Linked DNA regions of Homo sapiens: regions 1, 3, 4, 5, 6 and 7 are each linked to region 2. The links come from fine-mapping of genetic effects on gene expression. A gene starts in region 2. Each other region holds a variant in brackets. All regions are shown on one strand. Distances are between the middles of the regions. Region 1 overlaps LHPP (phospholysine phosphohistidine inorganic pyrophosphate phosphatase). Region 2 holds the start of OAT (ornithine aminotransferase). Region 3 has its middle 120 kb from the start of CHST15. Region 4 has its middle 140 kb from the start of OAT. Region 5 overlaps OAT (ornithine aminotransferase). Region 6 has its middle 49 kb from the start of OAT. Region 7 has its middle 41 kb from the start of OAT.

Region 1 (4,176 bases), 76 kb before region 2:
TTGGTGGCTGGCTGCAGCCCGGCCAGGCTCACCCTACGATCGCGTCACACTGAGCCTCAAGGCACTCACAGTCCAGACACATGGTGGGCCAGACCTGGCTCTGGCTGAACTAAGCCAATTGACTACAATGAGGCGAGAAAGTGGTTTAACCTGCGCTGCTCTGAAGACGCAGTTCATTGAAAGCCAAGAATACACAAGGGGGCTTGATTCTTGGAACCACTAAAATGTTTTGCCATCCACCATCACATCAGTTTCCCTCTCCTCCTGCCATGCCCTTACGATATGGGAGACGTGGAGAAAGCACGTATGCAGAAAACGAGAGGGAAGAAGAGCGCATGCTGACTTGAGCATTCAGATCTCACTGCCTTCTAACGGTGTGACTTTGGGTTGCTTACGCCTGTGGGCCTCAGTTTCCTAATCTGTAAAATGGGCAAAACGAACAACAAACAATACCTACCTCACGGATTGCTGTGAAGCTTGAACAAAATAACGCATGCAAAGTTATTAACTCGGTACCTTCCATGCAGAAGCTGCCCAGATGAGACAGGAGAATATTATTATAAATAACCTTTCACCCAGGCTGACACAAGCAATAAGATGAGCTGGGGGAAGGAAAAAATGAACACAGCCCTGTTCAATTTGGGGGCTGAAATGTGTTCTGTGACCACCTGGGGTGTGAGAACTGAGCTCCTCGGGAGCTGCCCTGGGGCTGTGCCCTTCCTCCAGCTCCGCCACTCCTGGGCACCCTGCCTGTCCCTTTCTGCCCCACCTGATGCCTTGAAGCTGTAGCAGGCACCCAGCCACACCTGTGAGATGAACCGCTCACCCCTGTGCGTCCTCCACTGCCTGCCTCAGATGCTTCCCGGCTAAACTTACAAGCTGGGCTGCAGGTACGGGCTTCAGCCAAACCTGGGCCTTGCCAGGGCTGGTCCCCCTGCCACTCCTGTTAGGCAGCTTTGGAGCTTGGAGTCTGTTTGTTGAAGGTGTGGGCATCTCCTGTCATGACGTGGGCTTGGGACTCTCCACGTGAACCCCAGGCCTGTTCCACAGCCTCTGAGGCTCTGTGCTCTGGGGTCACGGCACAGGGATACAGGCTGGCTGGGATGCTGTGAATGCTCACAGAGGGGGGACCTGAAAATGCCCTCCCTTTTAGAGTGACCCCCAAAAACAGGCTTAGAAATCTCTAAGTTCATGTCTTAAACGCAGACTTCAAATGTATATTTTGCATTTACATGGCCTAAAAAAGTACTGCTTTTTCTTTTTCCCAGTTGGACAATCAGCTACTTTGGTCTGATGGTTTCCTTAGTGGGGTCCAGAGTTCTCAGGAAACAGTGAGGGGACACCGGGTCCTGGGGCCTGCACTGGCTGGTGCTGCAAATGGCCCAGGTTACCTTGGTCCCCCTTGGCATTAACGATCCCAGATGCTCCACAGCCCTTTGCAGGACTCAGGGATACTCCCAGCCCCAGCCTGCTCCACAGGGACTCACAGTCTGGTGGGGAAGCAAAGAAGCCCACAGACAAACTTTAAAGGGCAGGACCCAGGGGAGGGGCAGTCTGCTTGAACAGGGCGGGGGACAGGCTGGGTTCAGGGAGGCAGCAGAGGCATGGAAAGCTGAGACCTGAGCTAAAAGGAAGTGAAGGGGAGGTCCGGGTCCAGGGAGCACCTTGGAATCCACTGAGCACCCTGCTGAGGACCAGGGTGGCCACGCCACCACAGGCAAGGCCCTCTGCAGGCCCTCAAAGGCCATGACCCTCGTCCCCTCCTGCCCACCTGTGCCAGGAGAAGGAGGGCATCGAGGTGGGTAGGGAGGGCCTCCCTAATGAAGTGATGTGTGGAAGTAAGCCAGGACGGAGGAAAGAATATACCCCACACAGGAAATGCTTACCCAGCAACAAAAGAAAACCTGAAATCAACAAAACTACTCCATTGCGACAGGTACAGCTCTGTTTGGAGCTGAGGATTCTGGGGGCTTCTGGGCCCAGACCCCTGTCCCTCAGCTACCCTGGGGCCGGCTGGAGGAGCTAGAGGTTGGGTGGACGGGAGCAAGCACCTCCCATCATCTGGCAAAACCTCCTAAGGGGACCCACGCGGCGCCACTTCCTCTGGCCTCAAGTTCCCTGCAGCCTCTTCGAAAGC[G/A]AAAGAAACCTGGATTTTCTTATGTTTAAATTTAGTCCTGGATGGGATTTTAAAAAAACTGAACGTGCAACTGAAAATACACAATCAAAACCTTGTCTTTGCATGCTAATCTTTAGAGTCCAAGGAGAACACGAACTTCCAGAAATCAAAATGAGAAACTTTAACGTTTATTTTTTAAAAAACTGAATCTGGGCTTGATTTTATAGTGCCCAGAATTTTTCTTTATTCCTTATTCATTCAGAAAAACAAAAAGGCATCTTGAGGCCAACTGTTACCTGGAAACATTTTTTAGAGACAGAGCAAATATAAGCACTTAAAATTTTTTTTTAATATAAAGGCCCGGTAATCTCCACACACTAGAGATGCGACGTATTTCTCCTGTTACTGGTTACTGGTTTAACCCAGCCAACGGCAGCCCCACTTAGGACGTGAATGTTCTAGCCACAAAGAGGAACCCGTGGATGCTGGAAAGAAAGGGGGAAGCCCGGGAGGAGGAGTCAGATGCGATTTTATGCTTTATTCTTCTGCCGTTTCAGATTATTCAGCACAGCCTCCCTGCAAATGACCACTTGACCTTTCCCAGAAGAGCCGTTAACCTTCCATAGTCTGTCGGGTAAACAGCTTAATTTTCTGAGAGCGGCATGACAGAAGAAATTACAAAGCCAATTCCCACTCTGGGGTCCAAACAGATGCCAAATGTAAATCACTCCATTTCCAGGAGAGGGACAGTCTGCCCCGGCGCCTCCACCCGCTGCTCCTGCCTCCTTGGTGGGCACCGCTCAGCCTGTGCCCCTGTGTCCCGCAGTGCAGGATGGACCTCACCAGCAGTGACCCACAGCCGAGGACGGCATGGTGATGGCAGCTCTCGGGGGGTCCTCAGGCTGTCCTGAGAAGCTGGGACCTAGTCCCTAAAACCGCCGGTTCCTTTCTCTGGTTTTTAAACACCCAGAACCCCCATCAGCAGAGACGCCACTAATCTCCTACTTTAAAAAAACCCTTGTCTACTATGACATTTGCTGCGGTATTACAAAGCTGAAAGCGACTGCTTCCGGTTTTTTTTTTTCTTTTTCAACAATATACCTGTTCTGACTATTATTATCCATGATCTGGAATAGTGGTTTTTAATAATTATGAGACAACTTTTTTTCTTTTCTTTTTTGTAGAGACGGAATCTTACTATGCTGCCCAGGCTGGTCTCGAACCTCTGAGCTCAAGCCATCCTCTCATCTCAGCCTCCCAAAGTGCTGGGATTATAGGCGTGTGCCACGAAGCTCAGCATGAGACATCTTTAAAGAAAAAAGTGTTAACATTAACGAATTACAGCAGAGCTTCTTCATTATGCTTGTTCTCTAGTGAGGTGTTGGTGACTCAAAGGCCTAATGGGTCAGCCCGGGTAAATGAGTTAAGAGGCCAGGTTCTGTGGCTTGCTCCATAGCAGCGACCTAAATTGCAATGGGTGTAAGTTTAAAAAGGGACTACAAGGGTTAATTTAATATGTCAACTTGGCTGGGCCACGGTGCCCAGATATGTGGTCAAACATTATTCTGGATGTTTCTGTGAAGGTGTTTTTGGATGAGATTAACATTTAAATCGGTGAACTAGGAGGAGAGTACATTCCCTTCCGCAATGTGGGTGGACCACATCCAACCAGTTGCAGGCTTTACAAGAACAAAGACTGACCTTCCCCGAGCAAGAATCCCACCAGCACACAGCCTTACGACTCTGCTGCGCGCATTCCTGAGTCCCTAGCCTGCCAGCCCTGCCCTGCAGATTTTGGACTCGCCAAGCCTCCACAATCTCTCTACATATCTATATCCTGTAGCTTCGGGCTTCTCTGAGGAACCCTGACTACATACAGGACACATTTTATTTATATGAGAAACATACTAGAAATTTTTTGTCACTAAAAAAATCTTTTCATTTCTTGAAACATCTTTCACTTGTCCATTTTTGATAGAGACACAGCGTGAAGAAGTACTTCTCTACTTTGAAAAAAACAACAAATGGCACACGATCAATGACAACTAACTCTGTGGTCT
Region 2 (4,101 bases):
AGTTAATCACATTGTATTGGGTGCTGTGGAGGAACATGAAAGAAATAAAAGGCAATGTTCTGCTCTCAGTGAGTTCTGGAGAGCCCATGGCCACAACAGTCTGAGAGAGTGACCTTGGTATAGGGCAGATGGAGCCCAGGGGGACTGAATCCCTTTTGGTGTCTTGCTCTGCACATCTGCAGATACTGGCTCTGCTGTTCACAGCTCTGCACCCATATCACTTTCTTATCCCTACCATTTAGCATGGACTTTACTTTCTGCTTAGCTAAGACTTATCTTAGCCAGTTATGTATGTTGGATGTCTTCCAATTGCTCCCCTACCCCGTCTCCACCCTTTTCCACCCTGCTGTTTGTCCCAGGAGGCTGAGCTGTCTTAAAGGGCTCCCCTGGCCTCTGGCCTCCTAATGGCTTCAGCCCATGTGGAAGCCTGACAGGAGATGCTCATTGTCCAGCTCCTTCCCATGCAGTTGCTGATGACTTTGGTGACCAGATAGCCTTTCCCACACTCCTCTCTTTGGGTTCTGGAATTCTGGAAACCCCACTTGGAGGCCGTTGGGCCTAGGATGGATAATGGCCCTCGCTGGTGCATGAGACCCAGGTTATTTCTCCATCCCTTGTGGTTTACTTGCCTACATTGATTGATTGATTGGTTGATTAAGATAGATGGTCTTGCTTTGTTGCCCAGGCTGGAGTGCAGTGGTGCAGTCATAGGTCACTGCAGCCTCAACCTCCTGGGCTCAAGTGATCCTCCCACCTCAGCCTTTGGAGTAGCTGGGAACATAGGTGTGCCACCACACCAGATTAATTTTTATTTTTTTTTGTGGAGACGGGGTCTCACTGTGTCGCCCAGGCTGGTCTGGAACTCCTGGGATCAAGCAATCCTCCTGCCTCGGTCTGCCAAAGTGCTGGGATTACAGGCATGAACCACGGGCCCCCACCACCACGTTTTAGGAAATGTTCACATTGGAGTGTGCCCTCTGTTTCCAGCTGGGCCCCCGACTGGTCATTGTGGTCTAATGGAGTGTGGTGCCGGCAGCTGCCAGCGCCTGCCCTCTGAGAGGGGTGGCGAGGGGCACACAGGACCAGACTGCCCCTACTGTTGGATGACTGGGTAAGTCGCTTTCCTTCTCTGGGTCTCTGTTTTCCAATATTTAACATCTTGTTGTGGGCTAAGTGAAGTCCAAGTCCCTTCCGATTCTAACATGAGGTTGTCCCGGAATATCTATTTTGTGTTCTGAATTTAATAACCGGCTGTGGAGGGCACCACAGGCAAATCTGTACTGTGAGTGGGTTGCTGCCACTCAATTATCTGACAGCAGCTGCGAACAGGTGGGCAGTGTGTTTTCCATAGGCAGCGACGACTTTTGGAGGTGGATTCAGAGGCACAACTAAGCCGCGCGGCGCATCAGGGTTCAAGGGCATGGGGCTCCCGCAGCTGTGGCTGGGGCAGAGCTGGGGCTGGTCCCTCCCTCCAGGAGCACAGGGCGGGCGGTCCAGCCTCACGTCTCTCGGCCTCCAGCCACACCCGGCCCGCGCAGTGGGGGGCCCAACAGACTTTTCCTTTTCGGGCCTCAGTCTTCTCGTCAGCAAGGGCGGACAAGGACTCTTCTCGTCCCGCCAGAGGAGGCGACCGAGGGGCCTGAGCTCAGGTACAGGCCGGCGGGCTCAGGAGGCGCGAGCGCGGATCGAATCCGCGGGAGGAGCAAAGATCCTTGATGCGCGGCCGGAGGGCGGGGCGGAGGACGGGACCCACGCGATTGGTATCCTGCCCTCCGCCCCAGCCAATGAGCGGCGAGGGTGTCTTGGGGGCGGGGCAGAATCAGCCTTTAAGTTGCAGTGACTCTCCGGCGTCACTGTTGCGCTTCATAGACGCCGCGTGTACCCGGTTGTCCTCAGGCGCTGTCAGGTACCGTCTGGGCGCCGCTGTCCTGGGGCTCTGGTTCGGGCCCTGGCCGGGGTTCCCTGACAGCGGCGGGGGAGGCGGGCGGGCGCGGGGTGGCCGCGGCCCGGGTTCGGGGGATGCTGGCTGAGGGGGCGCGCTGGGCCTCGGCCGGGGAACGAGCCCCGCTTCAGCGGCCCGTTTACTCTGCGGGCGGCTCGGACCCGGGCGCCCTGGAGTCTCCGGCCGGCGCGCAGCTTCAGGGGGCAGGGGCGTGGCGACCCACGGCTTGCAGGCCGGAGTCCTGGTTCCAGCCCAGAGCGGCCGACGGGCGGGCGGCAGGGAGAGGCTGAGGATGTGGCAGCCCCGCCTGCCAGACCGGGCGGAGCCGCCGCCCCCTGCGCTCGCGGCCTGTGGAGGCCAGGACTCGGCCCACCCGGCCCAGAGACCCCGAGGCGCCCCGGGGTTCCGGGTAGGAGGCCTTTGGGCACCCTTGGTTCCTGGGGTTGGCGGGGAGGCTGCGTTCTGGGGACGGGGGAGCTGTGCAGTAAACCGGTGGCCCTGGTCACGCGGCGGGGGCGCTGATGCAGCCTTGGAGGGCTGGGTCCTCCCGGCCTGCTCCTGCGCCCTGCAGATCGGCCTGCCCATCGCTCCCCTCTTCCAGCCTATGATTTTTTTTCTCCAGCCTCTGTCGAAATAAAGAAAATTACGGAAGCAGAACCTTCCTTACAGTAACGTGCAGGTTAATTAGATGGTGGGGGATGGGGGGGCAACAGGACTTTCAGCATGAAAACCTCCCGTTGGGGGCTTTTTGCAAACCCTGCTGAGCATCAGTAAATGGGCCTGGCCAGTGCGTTTCCTCGATCGCCTTCCCGGGCGGGACGGGAGGGGTCATTGTCCGCCCTTTGCTGGCGAGAGGACTGAGGCCCGAAGTCACCTGGGCACTCGCCCTGTGACCCACCGTCTCCTTTTGTCACTCTACATCTTACCTTTTCGGTGTTCAGTTTTACCTCTTAGATAAATTACGGTGATAAATTAAGGGCGAACAGACAGTGACTTTGGAATGAAGTGGCTTTACCTTAAGAAATGACTAATGTTCAGTTTCCAAATTCTAAATTTCTCCTTCTGGGATTGAAAGGGTTTCTGTGGATAAGCTAGTTCTTTCAGTTAACCCCGGAACTGTTCTTTAGATTGTAATCAATCGCTCTTAGCCATGTGAAATAACAATAGACTCCTTTCATTAGAATATCCTGGTTCTGTCTTTAGATGAATCTTTTCATAAAAACGAGCGTTAAATTAAAAAGCTTATTTTTAGCCCGGCACGGTGGCTCACACCTGTGTAATCCCAGTATTATGGGAGGCCCAGGCAGGCGGATCACCTGAGGCCAGGAGTTTGAGACTAGCCTGGCCAACATGGTGAAACCCTTTCTCTACTAAAAATACAAAAATTAGCCAGACATCGTGGTGCGCGCCTGTAATCCCAGCTACTCGGGAGGCTGAGGCAGGAGAATTGCTTGAACCCGGGAGGCAGAGCTTGCAGTGAGTTGAGATCGTGCCACTGCACTCCAGCCTGGGCGACAGACTCCGTCTCGAAAAAAAAAAAAAAAAAAAAAAAAGCTTATAGTTTTGGGTTTACAGTTTTTCATGGTGTTTAAGATTAGTTTTGCATCCCCCCCCCAAAGAAAAATCCAGTATAACTTTAAATAGTAAACATTTTTAAAAGACATTTTTCCCTCAAAGCAGCTGTCTTAATATGTATTATCCCCATAGCGTGCCTTTATTACAGTTATTTGTGTGCATATTTTATGCCCTTTAGTGAGTTCTTGAGGACCTTTCAAATCTCAAACATTTACAAATAGTGATGAATGCACGAATTTGGATGTGTGTGGAGGATGTGCTGTAGTTGACCCCGGTCCTTTCTCAGTAGTAAAACTAGTTGTTTGCCAATGATGCACTTGGCTTGAATTTTAGCCAGAATACTGATTACGTCAAAGAGACTTCTGTTGGTAGAACTTTTTTTTTTTTTTTTTTTTAAAGGCCTGTATTTGTGAATGGTTACCTCAGGAAAAGTAAATATTTGTCAAAATAGCAAGAACAAATTTACTCCTCAAGTTGAATATTTTAAGTGGCTTTTGGACAACTTTACGCCGACTATTCTTTTAGAGTAAGAAAATAGTTTTTAAGAGTATAGGCTAAATTAACTTCAAAATGCAGCCTTTTGT
Region 3 (4,176 bases), 210 kb after region 2:
AGGTTCAAATGATTCTCCTGCCTCAGTCTCCTGAGTAGCTGGAATTACAGGCATGTGCCACCAGACCCACCTAGTTTTTGTATTTTTAGTAGAGATGGAGTTTCACCATGTCGGCCAGGCTGGTCTTGAACTCCTGGCTTCATGTGATCCTCCTGCCTTGGCCTCCCAAAGTCCTGGGATTACAGGCGTGAGCCACGGTGCCTGGCCTGGGATGGTTAAGTTTATGTGTTAATGTGGCCGGGTCACAGACTGCCCCGGTATTTGGCTAAGCATTATTTCTGGGTGTGTCTGTTGTGGGTGTTTCAGGCTGAGCTCAGCACTGGAATCAGTGGCCTCAGTGAAGTTGACTGCCCTCTCCAGTGCGAGTGGGTGTCAGCTGATCCGTTGAAGAACTGAGTAGAAGAGAAAGGCAGAGGAAGGGCCGGGCACGATGGTTCATACCTGTAATCCCAGCACTTTCAGAGGCTGGTGGATCACCTGAGGTCAGGAGTTCAAGACCAGCTTGGTCAACATGGCGAAACCCTGTCTCTACTAAAAGTACAAAAATTAGCCAGGCGCGATGGTGGGCGCCTGTATTCCCAGCTACTTGGGAGGCTGAGGCAGGAGAATTGCTTGAGCCCGGGAGGCAGAGGTTGCAGTGAGCCAAGATAGCACCACTGCACTCCAGCCTGGGCGACAGAGAGAGACTATCTCAAAAAAAAAAAAAAAAAAAAAAAAAAAAAAAAAAGAAAGAAAGGCAGAGGAAGGAAGGATTATAAACTGCGTGTTTGCATACCCCCCACATTCATATGTTGAAGGCCTGATCCCAGGGTGATGGTATTAGGGGGTGGGGACTTTGGGGTGATTAGGTCATGAGGGTGGAACCCTTGTCCCGGGATTAGTGACCTCACAAAAAGAGATGGGAGAGCCCTCTTGCTCTCTCTCTAGCATGTGAGGACACAGAAAGGTGTCATTTGTGAACCGGGAAATGGGCCCTTGCCGGGAACCAAATTGGCTGGTACCATGACGTTGGACTCCCTAGCCTCTAGAATGGTGAGAAATAAATATTTATCATCTTAGCCACCCAGTCTGCGGTATTTTGTTCTGGCAGCTGGAGCTGACTAATGCAGGCAGAACATCCCAAGTGTCTGAGGTTAGCAACTGTTGACATGTAGAGGTAGACGTGAATGCCACAGACATGGAGGGTGGAGGGCAGGGTCCATTATGGTTAGTTTCATGTGTCAGCTTCACCAGGGAACGGCACCAGGTTATTAAACACTAATCTAGGCGTTTCTGCGAAGGTATTTGGTAGATGTAGTTAACACATACAATCAGTTGGCTTTAAGTAAAGGAAATTATACTTGATAATGTGGGTGGATCTCATCCAATCAGCAGAGGGCCTTAAGAGCAAAACCTGAGGTTACCTGAAGAAGAAATTTGGCCACAAGATTGAAGCATTAACTCCTGCCTGACCTTGCAGTCTGTTGGCCTGCCCTGCAGGTTTCAGACTCCATACTTCCAATGCATTTGGAAGTTCGCACCATCAGTACACCTGCCCAAGATTCCAGCCTGCTGGCCTATCCTATAAATTTTGTACTTGCCAACCCCCACAAGCATATGGGCCAATTCCTTAAAATAAATCTCTGTGCCATGGTGAGCAGGTCTATGCAAACCTATCCCCAAAGGCCAAGGGAGCTGAGAGGCTGAAGAAAGAGGCTGACAAATCCAATTTCTCAGAAAGAAACATTTAATAGGGCCTTATGAACAGAAGTGATGTCTCAGATGGCTGAGAGACAGTGGATTCCTGCACCCACCCTCCAGAAAATATCCCTCCTATAGCAAGCTTTTAGGGTAAAACATGTGCAGCTGGTCATGCCTCAGACTTTCTTGCAAAACTCTTGTCCACTGGGGAGGTTAGACGGTATCTTTATGAGCGGCTATCTATGCTATGGGCATTGTTTAAAGGCCTTGCTGTGGAACACCTTGGTCTGCAGGAGTCAAACATTATCATCATGGTGGTTTTGCTACAATCTCTCTCTCTCTGTCAATGTATAGATGTTTATATCTCTAATTAGTTCTATTTCTTTGGGGACACCAAAAGCATCTGCTACAGTCCACCCCTTGCACTGCTCAGATCCTCTTGGGCCTCATGTTAGGTTTGTTTTATCTGTCACTGATTCTTCAAGGTGGTGGCTGGTC[C/T]TAGTTCTTTTAAAACAAACAGAAACTTAAAAAAGGAGGCTTTCCAAAGGCTCCATCCTGCTTCCTCATCTACCATGGGTACTTCCAGCACCATGGAATGTGCCAGATCACTGGCCCACATAGCAGAGCCACTTAATCCACAGCCTAAACCTGCTGTAGACTCCTCTCTTACTCTGGGACCCACTCAAACTGGCAGCCATTTGCCCCACCCAGTAAATGTGCTAGAACACTATTCCCAGATGTGGGATGTCTCCAGATTCTAGGAAGGCCTGTCAAGTATTGTGCCTCTATCTTTTTTTTTTTTTTTTTTTTTTTTTTTCAAGGCACAACAGGTAGTTCTTGAACTGGCAGCTTCACTGATGTGCCAGGCCCCTGACTCTTTGTGGGGTTTATTTCCCACCCCTCCTGCACTTGATAATTCTGTGGTACTCCAGGCATGTGGAGTAGACAATAATAAAGCAGATTCTGGTGAGCAGAGGAAGCCCTGGAGGAATGAAAGGCCTTGGAAGTTGGCCAGTGTACACCACAGGGGTATGGGTGAGGGGATATGGTTGGAGCATTGACATCACCTGCCACAGACATCTGGCCTCTCCTACAATCAATGGGCTCTGGTTTAGGTCTACAGAGCAGGTGAGAGACCACAAGTCTCCATTGCAGTGGCTGACAGCAGGCTTCTGCACACCTGCTCTTGGTCTTTTTGGTTTTAGAATTTGAGCAGTACCCTCATCGGCTGCCCATCTGGCCTGTCCTCAGGAGTGCAGTGGTCTATTAGCCCTCCCCACAGGTCTCTGTGGGTCAAAGCCCCCTGTTTGCCATTCCATCCTTGCTGCCTGCTGTTAATACATCATCTCCTACTTCTGATGGTTAAGTGCTGCCAGCTGGCCCCTGTGATTCCAGAATCCAAGCATTTCCACAGATGCTGGAGAACCTGGTTCCATCACAGCACCCCTACCATCCACCCTGGCCTATGGTGGGCCACCACTACTGAACCTCTCAGGAACGAAGCACTCCTCTCATTATCGCTTTAGTTAAGGCTGGTTCTTTCATCTTACATAATTAATCTAGTCTAGTGGGCTCCCCTCTGGGAGCCTTGTAACCCATTCCTAGACTCTCCACCAAGCCAGTTCCCACATCTCCTCCCCAGTTTTTCCTAAGCCTCAAGCAGCAGTCCCAGTGGGTTATTAAGACCATCTCTGAGTGTCCGTACCATGATGTTAGATCCCAAGTCATGGGACGGTGCTCCACATTGATAAACTCTCCTTTATCCAGCATTACGCTTACCCCCTCCTGGCCCAATGCCTTCATTATATGCTCCTAGACATGTCCTCCTTGTTCATGTTGGTTCATTCTGCCAGGTCCTACACCACCACAGTGAGATAGCCCTCTCCTCCCAGAGCAGGTCGGTGCTTCCCAGTTGAACCCCTGAGCCTTGGGCTTCACTATCAGTCTAGAAGCCGTGAGGGGAGGGGGCAACTACTGATAAGGGCAAGCATCATTGCACAAGGCACCTGAGTCAAATGAGGCTCTGCGTGGTCTCCCTGGAGAAGGGGGCAAAGAGGAGGGCACTACCTCTGCTGGCCCCAAAAGCTCAGGAGCATATGCAGGATTAAGTTCCTCCCTCCCACGTGCCCCAACTCTAGGTTTCTAGGACCCACTTCTTCCTTATCATGGCCTTGGCTTCAGCATAGGAAGCTTGCTGGGGCCATGAATCCAGCCTCTGTAACTCTGCTCCTCCACCATCAGATTCTTAGCCTGATTTTCAACACAGTCTGCCCCTGGCTGTGCAGGGTAAGGATAGCTCTAATGCTGTTCTGGAGGACACCTAACTTTTGCACCTTGTCCTGAGTAGCTAGATGGCTGGCCTGAGCCTGTCATCTTTTTCCTTCAGAATTTTGATAGCAGCTAGTGACAGTTAGCAATCCTTATATTGTCATTGCCATATGGCCCTCTGGAGCTAGAGCTATTGTGCTACAGCTATTTCACTAGCCAGTGCATCTT
Region 4 (4,176 bases), 140 kb after region 2:
TACACATGAGCCAAGGTGTACTGGCTTAGAGTTTACCTGGTGCCTTTTGAGTTTTCAGCTTCCTCTGATGGGGCTGTTATGAGGCTTCACAAATGGGACACTAGGTTCTTTGCCAGGTCTGTGTTGCTGATGACCTTGTACCCCTCATTCTTCCTTTGTACTCCCCAGATCTTCATCTAGAAGGGAACGCAGGTCCCAGGTCCAGCGTGGTCACTGGCTAGTTGGGAGAAGTCGGGCAGCCAATCTCTTTCTGAGCCTCCTTGGCTCATCTCTAAGGGCACCAGGAAGTACCAGAGCCCAGGTGTTAAGTTCACAGGCTCTGACTGCTGGGGGCACAATCCTGGCTTGCTGAGTTCCTTGGGCAAGTACTTGGCCCCTCTCTATGACTCAGTTTCCTTATCTATATAATGGAAATAATCATTAGTACCTACCTCATAGGGTCATTGCAGGATGTCCAGCAATACTGCATGCAGACAGCCCAGTACCTGCTTCCAGGTGAGCTCCGTTAGGGAGCCAGTGCTTTCCTGGACAGCAGAGAACTGGGCTTTGCTATGACTTCAGGGGCCAGGTACCGAGCTCTGAACGTCACTGTAGCACCCCTCAGAGCTCGCTAAGAGAGGCCGTGGAAGTGTGACCCATGGAAGGGCATTGCATTCCTTTAGCGAGTCAGAGTTCACCAAATAAGGGTCATGTGGCTTTAGCTCCTCTTATCAAATCCTCAGAGATACAGCAGTCCACGGGCTTCTAAAAAATGAACTTGCAGTTGCCTTTCAAAACCTAGAGGCGTGGGAGAACACAGGGGGCCTGAGGGAATGGCTGTGCAGGGCGTGTGATAGCACTGGCCACTGAGGGCCTGTGGCGCGGGGGATCCTGCGAGGGCTTGGGCCTCCCTGGGGCGGCACGGCACTGCTGTGGCGAACCCCGGCCTCCTCTCTCTAGCTGGAAGATGGACCTAGTGATTGATATAGTTTGGATGCTGGTTCCCTCCAAGTCTTCTGTTGAAATGTGATCCCCAGTGTTGGAGGTGGGGCCTGGTGGGAGGTGTTTGAATCTGGGAGTGGATCCCTCATGAATGGCTTGGGCCATCCCCTTGATGATGAGTGGGTTCTCGCTCTGAGTTCACCTGCGATGTGGGCATTTAAAGGTGTGTGGCACGTCCCCCCCCACTCTCTCTCTCTTGCTCCCGTTCTTGCTATGTGAAGTGCCTCCTCCTCCTTTGCCTTGCGCCATGATTAGAAGCTCCCTGAGGCCTCTCCAGAAGCAGATGCTGCTATGCTTCCTGTACAGCCTGCAGAACCATGAGCCAATGACATCTCTTTTCTTCTAAATTACCCAGTCTCGGATATTTCTTTATAGCAACGCAAGAACAACTTAGTACAGTGACTCCTGGCTGGAAGCCGTTGCCCATGCCTTTGCCTGCACCTGACACCCGTAAGCCGAGTCCTCTGGAGGGGTGGGTGGCTGCTGTGGATTGTTCTGGGGTCACTGACCCGGCATGGGCCCCGCACCAGGAAATAGCCGAGAAGCAGGGTCCGTGGGGGCACTGG[G/A]ATGGCTGAGTAAAGCCTGAACAGTGTCTTTCAAGGGCAGGCTCAGCATATCTGAAGATCCTCCCTGAGGGAATTTGGAAATCTTTCTTCAGAATGGAGCGTGGGCTTGCTGGGAAAGGAGCATCCCCTCCCCTCAGGGCCCTGTATTTAGGCCCAGTTCCCACTGGCTGTGTGGTCTTGGGAAGGCCTCGTCCTGTCTCAGGGTCACAGTTTCCTCTTCTAGAAAACAGGGAGAACAGGAATGCCCACTGCCCAGGGTTGCGGGAAGGTCAATGGGATAACGTGGACAGAAACACCTGACATGGTCTGTACTTTACAATTCACCTCTCCTCCCTTCCTCCTCACTTCCCTGTCCTCCCTCAGGGCACCCAGGCTGCGCCCATGGCCATTTCCCAGCCCACTGCATACTGGGAGGCCAAGATGGCGGTGCCATTTGGGAGATCATCTCTAAGGCTGTACGAAGGGTACCTGACCTCCTCTTGCCATGCTAGGTCACCAGACATTTTTCATTCACTCAAACAATGAAATGACAGGGACCCCCTTTCTCTCAGAGCCCCTGCCAGTGCCTTCAGGGAGGGACACTGCCTCTCTGCCTCAGCCAGGCCATGGGCACCTCAGCTGCTGGGTCTGCATCCCAGGAGGTTTGGCAGCTCTTCCTGTGGATGGGGCAAGGCTGGAGTGGCCAGGGGAGTGGCCCGGCCGTACCAAGGCTGCTGTGTGTTCCAAAAGCCATATCCTCTGTTGGGGTGACCTTTCCTATCTCCGTAACCTAAGAGTCCAGGTCGCCCAGCCTGGAGCCACAGAGGGTTCTTTGCCAGCAACTCCTTGCTGGCGGTGGCAGGACAGTCTCAGGTCCCCATGTCCTGGTGCTCAGGTTAGTCTCCTCAGTTCTCCCAGTCCCTGGAAACACAAGCCAGCTGGAATTTTCCATCCACTTGAGTTTGCTTTTGAATTATTACATGTCATTCACAAGTGCAATAAAACACGTGGGTTTTCTTTCTTTTTTTGAGACAGTGTCTCGCACTGTTGCCCAGGCTGGAGTGCAGTGGCGTGATCTCGGCTCACTGCAAGCTCCGCCTCCTGGGTTCACGCCATTCTCCTGCCTCAGCCTCCTGAGTAGCTGGGACTACAGGTACCCGCCACCACGCCTGGCTAATTTTTTGTATTTTTAGTAGAGATGGGGTTTCACCGTATTAGCCAGGATGGTCTCGATCTCCTGACCTGGTGATCCGCCCACCTCAGCCTCCCAAAGTGCTGGGATTACAAGCGTGAGCCGCTGCGCCTGCCCAATACGTGAGTTTTCTAACACAGCCTTGTTTCTAATTTTCGTTTTCTTCCTGTGGAACAAACATGATGAGGTATCGTGCACTAGTCAGACGAGATTCAATTCCCAGCCCAGCCCTGCCCTTCCTGGCTGTGTGGCCTCAGAAAATTCATTGCCTTTCCTGAGGCTCAGCTTTCTCCTTGACAAATTAGGGCTAATAATGCCTGCTGAGGATGAACCTGAAATGACAAGTGTGAAAAGCTCACATTGCACCTGGCACAGAGGTGCACATAAACACTCGGGACATGTCAGACAGTGAATGGCTGAGCAGCCCACCCAATTGCAACTTGTCCTCTGCATGGAGGAAGCAAGAAACAGGAGGAAGCAAGAAGTGTGGGTCTGACGCAGAGTCAGTGAAGCCCTGCAGACAGAGCCAGGCACGTGCTTGGGTGGCGAGGGGCAGGACACGCAAGTGAGGATTGTCATCCGAGGTCAGATACAGGCATGAGTCCAGCTCAGAGTGCAGAGCACCCTGGAGCACGACTCAGAGACTGGTCTGCAAGCTCTGGCCCTTTGCTTCCTTGCTTTTTGGCTTGAGGTCAGCCACTTAATGGGTGTGTCCTTTTCTATGAATGAGGCCATTTCTAATGGCTGCCCACGGGGCAGGAGTGGGGACCCAAGAGCCACGGGGAGATGATGTGTGAGCTCCTCATGCCTGGAACTCAAGTTTTGCCCAGTTGGCTCACACTCAGGGTCTGAAGCCCATCTAGCTGGGGGTCTCTCGAGGTAGGTAAGGACTGGTGAGGCAAGAACAAAGGCCCCTGGCTGAGGAGGTGAGTGGGGCTGAAGTCTGGCTCCTGCTGTGCTGGCTGGCAGTGCATCCTGAATTGGGGCTGTGTCTGTCCAGAGATGGGGCACCATATTCTAGGTTAACACAGGCCATGTCTGTTTGCCGAGCTGTGTGCTCATGGTGTCTCCACAGACAGGGCTGTGTCTTTTCGTGGGCATAATAGGGACCATCAGTGGCCTGAGGCCTGATCTTCTCTCCTTCAGTCTCCAGGGGCACTGTTTAGCTGCCCTGTGCACATAGGGCCCTGGCTTATGCTCCATCTTTCACCCTATTCTGCCACTTAGGTATGGGGAGGAAGCTTAATACCATCACCATTCAGGGAAAGTAAATCTTCCCAAAAGAGTCTCTTTTCTGATTGTAAAAGTAATACATACTTATTGTAGAAAATTATGAAAACACAAGTAAGTCTAAACAAGGAAATGAAAATCATGCATAGTCCCACTACTTAGAGACACTCTGAAATGTTAAAAAGTAGTTGTTTCTGGTTGTATTATTTTCTCTCCATATTTGAGTAT
Region 5 (4,153 bases), 23 kb after region 2:
CTGAGGGTAGCCAGCTGTTTTCAGTGGTCCCTGGGAGCCAGCTGGAGACAGGTGGTCCTGTAAAAGCTTTATTCCTAATGTGGGCACATTCCACTCCCATGAGTCTTCAAAAACTTTTTTTTTGAATATATTTTTTTCAGTTGATACATAATAGAACAACGTTTATGAACCTGCCGTTTGCTTTGTAACGTAACTAAATAATGTAATGGCATCTATATTCAGTTGAAGTGTTTTGATGTGCATGTGTACTTCCTAAGGTGAAATGCATCTATATACAGACAGCCTCTAAATCAAGTCCTTCAGTATAATTGATATATGTTTTTATAATTTCCTCACTGGTATAAGTGTTTCATATTTGAAAAAGTTATCTCTGGGTATTGCATAAAAGGCTTCATCTTATAAAGTGAAATCATTGTTATTGAATTTTAGGAAGGATTAATGGTTAAGTGTATATAAAATACTAATATTAAGTAAACTTCATATTGGCCAACACCAGGGTTGTATTCTATGGATGTCATTATTTTGAATTAAGAATTAGTGTTTAACATTCCTAAATTGTTTTGAGTGCTTGATTATAATTTGTAAAAAATGTTTATTTTCAATACTTCTTTAAATTTAAAATAAAGCTTATATTTCAAATGTCTGTTTTGTGATGATTATTCACCTTAAAAGGAAGAAGCTGAGGCAAAATTAATATAGAATGTTTAGGTGGGCCAAGGTTGGGGACTGCAGCTCGGGACACACTTCCAGGTTGCCCTGGAGAGTGCTCCAGAGAACACTTCTTAAAGAAAAAAGGATAGATCAGCTGCTCTTATACCCTCTACTGACACAAGGTGAAGGGGTGATTACAAAAGTTGTTTATCAGGAATTCTCATTGGCTTACAGAACTAACCTTGGTTAGTGATTGGCTATATGCTGTTGAACTACAGGGTATATGGCATTTGATAGATACTTGGCTTCAAGAGGTAATTATGTAGCTTGGGAGAGAGTGACCTGACTATGATTTCATTCTATTGCCTCTCTGGGCCTGATAATTTAGTTTTTATTTTTTGAGATGGAGTCTCTCTCTGTCGCCCAGGCTGCAGTGCAGTGGCACGATCTCAGCTCACTGCAACCTCCACCTCCTGGGCTCACATGATTCTCCTGTCTCGGCCTCCCGAATAGCTGGGATTACAGGTGTGCACCACCACACCCAGCTAATTTTAGTATTTTTAGTAAAGATAGGGTTTCATTAAGTTGACCAGGCTGGTCTTGAACTTCTGGCCTCAGGCGATCCCCCCAACTTGGCCTCCTAAAGTGCTGGGATTACAGGCATCAGCCCCTGTGCCTGGCCTGGGCCTGATAATTTAAAGGGGCTCACGTTCTTCAGTTACAAGATTTCTTTATTCCCCATGTCACTATGCTATTACTGCAGTGTTATCAGTTACATTTTTTTTTTTTTTTGAGATGGAGTCTTGCTCTGTTGCCCAGGCTGGAGTGCAGTGGCGCAATCTCGGCTCACTGCAAGCTCCGTGTCCTGTGTTCACGCCATTCTCCTGCCTCAGCCTCCCCAGTAGCTAGGACTATAGATGCCCGCCACCACGCCCGGCTAATTTTTTGTATTTTTAGTAGAGATGGGGTTTCACTGTGTTAGCCAGGATGGTCTTGATCTCCTGACTTTGTGATCCACCTGCCTCGGCCTCCCAAAGTGCTGGGATTACAGGCGTGAGCCACTGCGCCCAGCCTATCAGTTACATTTTTAAGCTTTTTGAGATTTATTTATTCCATGTGTTTTCTTTTTTTTGTATTCCTTTTTTTTTTTTGAGACAGAGTCTTGCTCTGTTGCCTAGGCTGGAATGCAATGGCGTGATCTCAGCTCACTGCAACCTC[C/T]GCCTCCCAGGTTCAAATGATTCTTGTGCCTCAGCCTCCCAAGTAGCTGGGACAATAGGCCTACACCACCATGCCCAGCTAATTTTTGTATTTTTAGTACAGATGGGGTTTCACCATGTTGGTCAGGCTGGTCTCGAACTCCTGACCTCAGGTGATCCACCCACCTCGGCCTCCTAAAGTGCTGGGATTACAGGTATGAGCCACTGTGCCCGGCATATTCCATGTGTTTTCTAACAGCATTTCAACTCTGATCTACAGAAAACTAGAAGTTATAAAAAGAATACATCTAAAAGATAGGTCTCATACTTCCCTTTCAAAGTAGCGCGTTCTCTGTGCATATACTAATATTTATCATTTTTTTAAAGTTATCCTTTTTATATGTGGTGTTCTGCAACTTTTTCTTTTTTCTTTCTTTCTTTTTTTTTTTTTTTACCTGAACAGAGTATTTTGGATGTTTTTCCGTCTTATTCTCAAATAATTAGTATTTCATCATATATGGGTATACTGTAATTTCATCTCATATTGGGACCATTTGACTTGAATAAAACTTGTGACCACTTCATATCTTTTCACAATGGTGCAAAAGTGCACAGTGTTTCTATGGAGTAAATCCCTAGAAGTGACTTGCTTTTCAAAGAAAAAAAACTCAAGTTAATTGTGTCACATTGCTCCCTGCCTCCCCCAGGTTCTAAAAAGTTACCTCTTAGCAGTATGAGAGTTGAGTCTTTGGTACTCTGTCAGGGTAGTGCTCTGTCACTGAATGACTACGTTTAAATGAGTGAGCAGTTACTGGGAGGCCTCCTCATACCAATTACAACTGGGGTGGCACCCAGGCCAGGTAAGCTCTCCAGGGCATTCAAGGTTGAGAACCTGTCTTAGGAATCTTATTAAGATGCAGATTTTTGTTTTGGAGACATAGTCTCACTGTCACCTAGGTTGGAGTGAAGTGGTATGATCTCGGTTCACTGCAACTTCCACCTCCCAGGCTCAAGCGATTCTCCCACTTCAACCTCTCTACTAGCTAGGACCATGGCCGTGTGCCACCAGATTTGGCTAATTGGTTTGTATTTTTGGTAGAGACAGGGTTTTGCCATGTTTCCCAGGGTGGTCTTGAACTCCTTAGCTCAAGTGGTCCACCTGCCTTGGACTCCCAAAGTGCTGGGATTATAGGTGTGAACCACAGTGCCCAGCCTTAAGATGCAGATTCTAATTCAGTCTCTCTCTGTGTGTGTGTACTGGAGATTCCACATTTGCAGGTTGCCTTAGGACATACTATTATTATGATGAGTCAGTTTAATTTGCATTCAGTTATTCTCACCAGAGATGACCTTAGGGCAGGTGATTTTTAACAAAGCTATCTTCCTGCTAAATTCTTTGAAGGCTTTAAAAGTCAGAGAGGACCCAGAGGTAGGAAAGTACAGGGAGTTGTGGAGACGGTGGCCAATGACAATGAGGGCCTTTGGGCTTAATTTGGTGAGCAGTGGGGTCACTGAAGAAAGGGGTTGAAGCAGGGGCGTGGCGTGATCCTATTAGAAAATCCTAGGCTGGGTGCGGTGGCTCATGCCTGTAATCCCAGCACTTTGGGAGGCTGAGGTGGGCGAATCACCTGAGGTCGGGAGTTTGAGACCAGCCTGACCAACGTGGAGAAACCCCATCTCCACTAAAAATACAAAAAATTAGCCAGGCGTGGTGGTGCATTCCTGTAATCCCAGCTACTCGGGAGGCTGAGGCAGGAGAATCACTTGAACCTAGAAGGCAGAGGTTGCAGTGATCAGAGATTGCACCATTGCGCTCCAGCCTGGGCAACAGAGCGAAACTCTGTCTCAAAAAGGAACAAACAAAAGAAAATCCTTTCTGGCTGATGGTTTAGGGCTTACTCATGCAGTACACACTGGTTGTAGGGCCTCAGGGCCTATGTCCAGTGGTGAACAGGTGGGCAGGAACCTGCTGACGGCACTTAGTGCCCTGGGGATGAAGTGGAGGGGTGGTGAAGCGGGAGGCAGGGAGAGTCAGACACAGGCTTTGGATTTGGGGTAGAACATCAGGGCAACTGCTGTGGTTAGATACTCCCTTTCCTTAGCTGTGAGGAAGTGGGATGCTATCTACCTTTCAGGGGAGTTAGGAGGATTAAAAAAGATGGAGTAGGTCAAGCTCCTGGTGGAGGACCTGGCACAGAATTACAGATCAATAAATAAGTTGCTAGCTCCCCCTCCCCACCCCCAACACATACAGTTGGAGGAGTTTGGGAGAGAGGAAGCTTCGGGAGAAGGATTCTTTCAGATAA
Region 6 (4,115 bases), 49 kb after region 2:
AGAAGTGCAGGGGAACTGCCCTTCACAAAACCGTCAGATCTTGAGACTTATTCACTATCAAGAGAAGAGCACAGGAAAAACCCGCCCCCCACGATTCAATTACCTCCCACTGGGTCCCTCCCACGACACGTGGGGATTATGGGAGCTACAATTCAAGTCGAGATTTGGGTGGGGACACAGCCAAACCATATCAGACATTAACCCTTAATTACTGCAAAGACCCTATCTCCAAATAGGTCACATTCACAAGTACCGGGGTCAGGACTTGACACATCTTTCTGTGGGACATGATTCAACCCCCATCACCCTCTCTGCTTTTCCATCTTCCCTGTGCTTCCTGGGCTGCCTCCCAAATAAACTACCTGCATCCAAGTTCTTAGCTCTGGTTGTCTTCGGGGGAACCCGAACTAAGACAGAGGGCAAAGATTCCAAAGAAAACAAAGAAGAGGGAGCAAAGCCCAGGGATGAGGAGAGTTAGGAATCAAGTTTCCTTTGGCCATTGGTGAAGAAACAAGTTCAAGTTTGGGGGGACTTCCAGGAGATGGAGGAGCAAGGAGGAGCTGGAGAGCCTCAAGCAGAAAGGAGCTTCCATTTTCAGAATCTGGGGTAGAGGAAGCAGGGAGTGGGGAGAGCTGGGGAAGCTCTGGCTTGGGCTGGGGCCACATCTGTGAGGAGGTGAGCAGAGAGAGGTGGAGCTAGTCCTGAGCCTGGGGACCTGGGTAGGGAAGCCCAGACCTTCAGGTTGGGTCACGTACCCCAGCTGATTCTGGCTGTGGCTGGGGAAACTGAGGCCCAGAAACGGCCTTGGCTCACAGCAGGGACTGGAATCCTCATCTTGATACTTCCCGTTTTCGCTTTGCCCCCCGCTGCACTGAGGGGCTTCCCTGGCAGGGGTGTCAGTATGCGGGCAGGTCTGTCGAGGCTCTGCTTACCAAGTCCACCTGTGCTTGGACCCTGGTGGAGAAGGACAAACCCTATGGTCAAGCACTGACAGTCTCCCCTGGTTTGGGAACATCCACGTGGACTCCGTTTTCTGTTGTGTGCGCAGTTTGATGAGGAAGCGTCTGCTTGCCTCTGATTCCTTCCACAGCCTATACAATTTCCGTCAGGTTTATTAATATAAGAGGGCAGCATCCTGTGTGCACAGATGACTTGTTATATTCACAGCTCTTGGGATGCTCCCTGCCCCGCAGCCTCGAACCCTCGATCCTGTCAAAGCCTGGAGCCCTTGGCTGCCCTGCCTGGCCAGTGTGGCTCCTTTCCCTGAGCTGTGATTTCAGCCTGGCCCTGGCCAGTGGCAGAGTCCATGGGCACATGGGGTGATTTGGTGGTGGGCAGCGGCCTCCACCTGAATAGGGCTGGTTTTGTCAGAAAACACCTTAAAATCACTCTCCGAGAAGAAAATATGTTTGATTTGGGGGCAGCAGGAAGAGTCTGGTGTCGTTTACAGTAGTTATATAGTTTTCAGCTCCTACTCTTTAAACCCTCTGCAGGAAGTAGAACAGAATTATCTGAAGCCTCTTTTCTGTTCTGCAAGAGTAGAATTTGTAATCATTTTGCCCGGACCAAAGCAGACACTTCTGTGAAATCCGCAGAGTTCACAGTTGTGGATGGAATTGCTCCCAAATGAATGGGTGTTTGAGCCACTCTATGAGTTCATTGTGGCTTCCATGGCAAATTACCACAAAGTTGGTGATGTAACACAACACAGATTAATTATCTTATAGCTCTGGAGGTCAGAAGTCCAAATCTGTCTCACCGGACTAACATCAAGGTATCAGAGGGCTGGTTCCTTCTAGAGGCTCGAGGAGACAGTCTGTTTCCTGCCTTTTCCAGCTTCCAGAGGCTGCCCTGGCCTTGGCCCCTGGCCTCTTCCTGTGTCCTCAAAGAGCATCTCTCTGGCCTCTGCTCCTGTGGTCGTATCTCCTTCTCTGCCTCTGAGCCCCAACTCTTCTCTCTTATAAGGACCCCTGTGATCACATTGGGCCCCTGAATAATAATCCAGGATAATCTTCCATGTCAAGATCCTTAATGTAATCACACCTGTGAAGTCCCTTTTACCATATAAGGACACTGTATTAGTCTGGTCTCATGCTGCTAATAAAGACATACCTGAAACTGGGTAATTTATAAAGGAAAGAGGCTTAATGGATTCACAGCTCCACGTGGTTGGGGAGGCCTCATGATCATGGCAGAAGGCAAATGAGGCGCAAAGGACACATCTTACATGACAGCCGACAAGAGAGCTTGTGCAGGGGAACTCCCCTTTATAAAACCATCAGATCTCATGAGACTTATTCACTATCACGAGAACAGCATGGGAAAGACCCA[C/T]CTCCATGATGCAGTTACCTCCCACCAGGTCCTTCCCAGGACATGTGGGAATTATGGGAGCTACAATTCAAGATGAGATTTGGGTGAGGACACAGCCGAACTATATCGGTCACATAGGCTCAGTTCCAGGCATTAGGACTGGGCATTTTTGGGGGCCATTATTTGGATACCACTGCCAGCAAAGCCCTTCCCCTGGCTCAGCCTCTCCAATCCCCCTCACTGCCCTGGGAAGTGGAGGGAAAGGGTCTGCGTCCCCATTTCATGGAGATGTCCAGAGGTTGTAAAGTGAGTGTCAGAGCTCAGTGGAACCAGGGTGTCCCTATTCCAAGTCCAAAGCTGTTTCTGCCAGCTCACACAAACCCACCCTGTCGACAGGCTCCTGCCCAGTGACCAGGCATGTGGTCACTGGCTGCCAATGAGGCCCATGTTTTAGACCTGGTGCCACTATCTGCCTAAGGTTGCACCGTCAGTAAGTTTCTTAACCTCCCTGTGTCTCAGCTTTCTATAGATATCAACATTCTTCTCTCATAGGTTATTTGTGAGGGAAAAACATAATTCTCTAAACCACTTAATAAATGTTGGATATGTAGTAGCTGTCACTGTTATTAATAACAATAGGGCAGGCTCATGCCTGTAATCCCAGCACTTTGGGAGGCCAAAGCAGGAGGACTGCTTGAGCCCAGGAGTTTGAGACCACCCTGGGCAACATAACTGGGTTGGAACTGCATCAACAGGAGGGCTCATCTCGCTACACTGGACCCTGGTTATGGCCACTTTGATGAGCAAAAACCAGGACAACAGATTAATTGCTCTGTGATGAAGTGCACAGGCTGATGGGAACAGCGGGGCAGTCTTGGGGAGCCCAAGATATTCCCAGGGTGCTTGGTGCTACTGGGGGCAGTGACTCAGGGACCTGGCCCCCAGTGCTTTAGTGTCTACTGTGGCTATGTTTGAAATTGATGTTGGTGTTGGTGGTGGGTGTCCCAGGCCTGGGAATCTGGTTCCAGTGTGTCTCCGCCCCCTCCCCACCTCTATGAAGGTGAAGGCCCCCCAGGGTTAAGCCCAACTGGCTGCGTTTTAACAGGGTTGGGGAGGGGCCATCCCTGCACCATGGGGTGAATGGCCCCTCAGTTCTCCTGCCTTTCTGGCCTTGATCACTGGGCCCTTGTGCTGACCTGACTCTGTGCCCTGATTGTCTGGGCAGCCAGCTCCTTCAACCAAGTGCTGTCCTGAGGTTGTCTCGGGTCCATAAATGCCTTGTTAAAATCGCTGGGAACAAGAATACTTTATGTTGCTGGCGACTCCAGCCCAGGCCGTTAAGTCTGTCCCGACACAGGCTGGGGCTCCCGCGGCCCAGCTCCGGGGCTTTGTGTAGTCCCGAGGCTAAGCCCTTTGCAAGCCCCTAATTAGGGCTCCCGTGTCTCTGCCCCAGGCTGTGGTCCTCGGGGAGACCTCCCCTGGCCCGGCCTGCTGGGCTTGGCCCTGGAGTCAAGCAGTGCTGTCTCGGGCTTCCAGGGCTGGGCGGGGGCTTCTGGTTTACACTGTTCAGTACCTTCCACCCCTTCCTGTGCAGATTTCCTCCGTCAGCCTCGTGTCCCTTGATTCCTGTCCTCGGAAGCGACATTCTCCCACTGGGTGCTGCTTTTCTCCCTGTTTCACCATCTTCCTTGGCCTCATTCCCAGCTCAAATAAAGCCCTAATTCCCAGTAAGGAGGGGCTTTGACCATGACACAGGGCAGGCCATGGAGGGCCTGGCAGGTGGGACTGGACTTCTGATGCCCTCA
Region 7 (4,176 bases), 41 kb after region 2:
GAGGAGTCAGAGGAGGAACGTGGAAGAGCTGGAGAGTTAGGGGAGGAGCACGGAGGAGCTGAGGAGTCAGGAGAGGAGCACCGAGGAGATGGGGAGGATCTGGGAAGTCGGGAGGAGCACAGAGGACACAGGGAGTCAGGGGAGGAGCATGGAGGAGATGGGGAAGAGCTGGGGAGTCAGGGGAGGCTCACGGAGAAGATGGGGAGTCAGGAGAAGAGCACAGAGGAGGTGGGGAAGAGCTGGGGAGTCAGGGGAGGAGCAGGGGAGTCGGGAGGAGCAGGGAGGAGGTGCCATTAAATCAGGCCTTGCAGCCTGGGAGGAGTGTGACCCTCAAGGGAAAGGGAGTCAGGCCCAGGGGTTGGTGGTGGGACATGGCTGCTTCTGCTTGGCTGCAGAGTGGGCAGAGTAGATTGAAGGGAGCCAGCCAGGCAAAATTCCCCGGGACCTCAACCTTTGAGGACACAACAGCACCACAGAAAATAAGCCGAATTGGCAAAATGTAAAAAGACCCCGCCCCCATCACCGTGCAAGGCTCTGGGAAGTGGAGAGAAATCAACAGCCTCTCAAAGTGCCTCAATGGCAGTTGCCGGGCTGGAAAGCCCCATGTCATCAAGCCTTTACCCTCCACACAGTGGAGGCAGCACTGGTTCCTTCCTGCAATCGACAAATACGTTTGAACAAATAGATGAAGAATATCAGTTGGAAGGTACCCAATTATAAACCTTCCTGGATACCTGCTGTGAATCTGGCTCTTAGAGTGGGGCACGTGCACTGAGCTATGGGAAACCCCTTTGGTCCCCAAGCCGAGGGCCAGGAGGCACTGGATGGCCACCTGCCACTCATCTGCACTCCTGCAGTGAGGGGGCTGGGCAGGCCCTCCACGGCCTGTGCTGTGGAACTGAATGGACTGGGGGAGAAGCTGGATCCACTATGGGCCGTCCTGGCTGGCACCAGCGGCCCCTGGGGCAAGCCTGTTGCTCCCTGCAAGGCCTTCTCAGCAGCAGGGAATCTCCTCCCTCTTCAACAGTCTTTTCACTGGACTAGGACTCCTGCCACCCTTGGAAAGGCCAGGGAGGGGATTGTACACACAGCGCCTGGGATTTTTGATACTTAAAGGGGGCGAGACACTCCCCCCTCACCGTTCTTGGCAAATGCCTCCTGAATGAGGGATGCCTGCCTGCCAGCTCCCCACGCTGAGATCTCTGCTGACAATCGGGAACAGCCAGCGGGAGGCTAGAGATTGATGACTAAACCTCTTGGAAGTTTCAAGCCTCAGGTACGCCCTCGGTGTCAGAAAGGCCAAGAGAAGCAGCCTCGTTGGTTGCCTACGGAATACCTCCGGGTGCCAATGGGCGGGCCTTGCCCAGCTCAGACTCCCTCGGCTGTGGCTTTGCCCATCAAGTAGATCTGCTTGGAGTGAACTAGGGGCTGAAGGAAAATTGATATAAAAGTAATACATGTTCCTTGAAAACCTCTTAATAATAGAAAAATACACAGAAGGAGGGTAGAATCATCCATAATCCCGTCTGGCAGATAGAGCTCCTGAAGATGGCTTGCAGCTTTCTTTCCGGGCCTTCTGTCCATATCCTTGCATAACTATCCTTCCAAAATTGGGCACTGTGGGCACCATGGAGTCTGGGAGGACTGAAGTTAACTTACCTTCCATGGTTACTTGAAGGGTAACATTCTTGGCCACCCTTGGCTCTGCAGATGTCGAGCAGACAGGCCCTCATGCTGCGTGGGTGGGCAGGTGTACTGTCCACCTGCCCCTGGTGAGCCTGGGTGGGCCAAGAGGGGCGTCAGCACCACTGGCCACACCCAGCATCTTCTTTGCATCTGTCCTGACCCTTTTCCATCTGACCTCGTCTACATAACCTTCTTCCTTCTTGGACTCAGGCCTCCTCCATCCCTCCTCACTGCATTCTCCCTCCCGTGAAGGCTGATTCTTTCCCCAAATGGCATCTGCGTTTCCACGCCACCAGGTTTGCAATAAACATTCTGGGGCTAGGCTGTGTTGGGCGGGCAGGAGTTGGCAGTCTTCAAGAGGACAAGCCCAGTGCCCAGTTATTCTTCCCTTCCCCTGCCCTCTGCATCCCCTCCCTCCCTCCCTCCCTTCCTTCCTCCCTCCCTCCCTCCCTCCCTCTCTTTCTCTCTTTCCTTTCTTCCTTTTTGAGACAG[A/G]GATCTTGCTATGTTGCCCAGGCTGGTCTCGAACTCCTGGCCTCAAGTGATCCTCCTGCCTCAGCCTCCTGAGTAGGTGGAATTACAAGTGTGCACCTGGCTCCCCACACCATCTCTGAATCACATTCACTGGGTGCTGAAGTGCTAGGTTCCAGAATGGTCCTCGCCATCATCAGCATTCCACTTCATCCTCCCGGGATCCCAAGGCAGGCACTGCCATTAGCACCGCTGTGTACGTGTGGCCCAGCAAGTTTGCCCAACATTGTCCTCCCGCGCTGAGAGGGCACTGCCACAAGCACTCTGTGCTGGACGTTTGCCATGCAGCATTGTATCTAAGTCTCACAACAGCCTTGAGAAGGAAGCATTATGAGGCCCATTTCACATGTGTGCAAATGGAAGCCTGGGAGCCAAGTCAGCGCTGGCCACACAAAGGTGACGAGGCACAGTCCCAGCCCTGGGGGAGCTCATGGTCCACCAACGGCATTCTTCCTGACTCTAGGGGACTCTCCGACCACTTCTGCAAAGAAGCAGGACAGGGCTGGGTGCTCCCACTGCCATCTTCTTTCCCCACCTCCCTTTATTCATTTTCTAAACCATCAATCCCCAGAGCAGGTGCTGGACCTGCAGCCGGTGCCCATAAACACTCAGCTGATTTAAGGGGGAACAAGGTGGGTGCTGTGCTGGAAGAAGGGGGAGAGAAGAGTTGAGAAAAGGGCACGAGGAAGGTGGTCTCGAGGACTGGAGTGCTACCCCCATGCGGTCTTCACTCCAAAAGATGGCACAGTGTGGGGGGCCTACTTGGTGCCAACAGCCGGGCTACCTCCGAGACAAAGCCTGGCACCCGAGAGGAAGGGGAGCTACTGGCAGGGAACCCCATGCACTCTTGTCCCTTGGAGACCCCAGAAGATCTCAAAGAAAGGGGCAGAGCCACAGTCTTCCAAGGCTTCTGTAGGGTCTTTCGTGCATGAGAGAAAACTCAGGCACAACCTCTGTGAACAACCCCTACAGGGACTCAGGGGCTGGGAGAGACACCAACTGCCACCCCTTGGAGGTTGTGCCCAGAGGTGGGGGCTGAAGACCCACTGGCTCTTTGAAGTGGAATTTTCAAAAAATTTCTTTATACTGAAGTTCACAAATCTGTAATCTCGCCTGGGATAATGGGGTAGGGGTCAGGGCAGGAGAGGATCCTAGTTCTTGAGACTCCATCGGGCTTTGTCTGCCACTGGCGGGCACTCTCGGGAGGATTTGAATGGTGAATGGGCCAAGGGGATGGAGGCCTCAAACGGACTTGACTTCCGCCCACCTGCAGAAGGAGGCTGATGGCTCTGATGGCTCTATAATAACAAGCCTTTCTCCTGTCCAAAAACCTGCAGGAATGACTGTGGGGAAATGACAGCATTTCCCCCAGCTCCTTACCCCATCCTCTACCTTCCGTCCGGCTTGTGTACTGTCATCTGGAAGGAGGAAAAGATGTGATGTGATGTCTTTATTAACATCACCTTTGGGAGAAGCGGGGGAAGCCCGGGGTGCTGGGAGGAACTAACTTGGCCACACAGAACCCGAGTGGAGGGGCTCTAAGGGCACCGGAAGGCAAGGTGGTCTTACAGCAGTGTCAGACCTAGGGAGCGGACGGATGTGCTGCCGGTGTGAGTGTCTGTGGAGAAAGGACTCTGTTCCCTCATTTGCTGAGGTTCACCCACCTGGGTCATGGTACTCGACCCCCTCTTCCCATCTCCAGGAAGTCTCTGTCCCAGACACCATCTTTATTTTTTTTATTTTTATTTTTTGAGACGGAGTTTCTCTTGTAGCCCAGGCTGGAGTGCAATGGCGCGATCCCGGCTTACTGCAACCTCTGCCTCCTGGGTTCAAGTGATTCTCCTGCCTCAGCCTCCTGAGTAGCTGGGATTACAGGCACCAGCCACTACACCCAGCTAATTTTTGTATTTTTAGTAGAGATGGGGTTTTACCACTTTTGGCCAGGCTGGTCTCAAAGTCCAG

What was found.
Region 1: its variant is fine-mapped to the expression of OAT in whole blood (TOPMed, PIP above 0.99).
Region 3: its variant is fine-mapped to the expression of OAT in whole blood (TOPMed, PIP above 0.99).
Region 4: its variant is fine-mapped to the expression of OAT in whole blood (INTERVAL, PIP above 0.99).
Region 5: its variant is fine-mapped to the expression of OAT in lung (TOPMed, PIP 0.99). The same link has a PIP of 0.9 or more in whole blood.
Region 6: its variant is fine-mapped to the expression of OAT in blood mononuclear cells (TOPMed, PIP above 0.99).
Region 7: its variant is fine-mapped to the expression of OAT in whole blood (TOPMed, PIP above 0.99).

What each region holds. Positions count from the first base shown.
Region 1 is chr10:124,492,145-124,496,320 of GRCh38, reverse strand. The region is part of intron 3 of LHPP (phospholysine phosphohistidine inorganic pyrophosphate phosphatase); the gene reads right to left. Among named protein-coding and RNA genes, the nearest start is that of LHPP, 32 kb to the right of the region's middle. RefSeq lists enhancers at 1-543, 544-1,121. The variant G/A (reference allele first, on the strand shown) is at 2,138.
Region 2 is chr10:124,416,678-124,420,778 of GRCh38, reverse strand. It overlaps OAT (ornithine aminotransferase), which reads left to right and starts at 1,856. Exons shown (of 10, transcript NM_000274.4): 1 at 1,856-1,906. RefSeq lists an enhancer at 667-1,181 and silencers at 1,155-1,814, 1,757-2,296.
Region 3 is chr10:124,209,045-124,213,220 of GRCh38, reverse strand. No RefSeq gene overlaps it. Among named protein-coding and RNA genes, the nearest start is that of CHST15, 120 kb to the right of the region's middle. The variant C/T (reference allele first, on the strand shown) is at 2,179.
Region 4 is chr10:124,279,197-124,283,372 of GRCh38, reverse strand. No RefSeq gene overlaps it. Among named protein-coding and RNA genes, the nearest start is that of OAT, 140 kb to the left of the region's middle. The variant G/A (reference allele first, on the strand shown) is at 1,548.
Region 5 is chr10:124,393,793-124,397,945 of GRCh38, reverse strand. OAT (ornithine aminotransferase) reads left to right here. Exons shown (of 10, transcript NM_000274.4): 10 at 1-643. The coding sequence ends at 4. Among named protein-coding and RNA genes, the nearest start is that of OAT, 23 kb to the left of the region's middle. The variant C/T (reference allele first, on the strand shown) is at 1,870.
Region 6 is chr10:124,367,782-124,371,896 of GRCh38, reverse strand. No RefSeq gene overlaps it. Among named protein-coding and RNA genes, the nearest start is that of OAT, 49 kb to the left of the region's middle. The variant C/T (reference allele first, on the strand shown) is at 2,332.
Region 7 is chr10:124,376,112-124,380,287 of GRCh38, reverse strand. No RefSeq gene overlaps it. Among named protein-coding and RNA genes, the nearest start is that of OAT, 41 kb to the left of the region's middle. RefSeq lists an enhancer at 255-972. The variant A/G (reference allele first, on the strand shown) is at 2,179.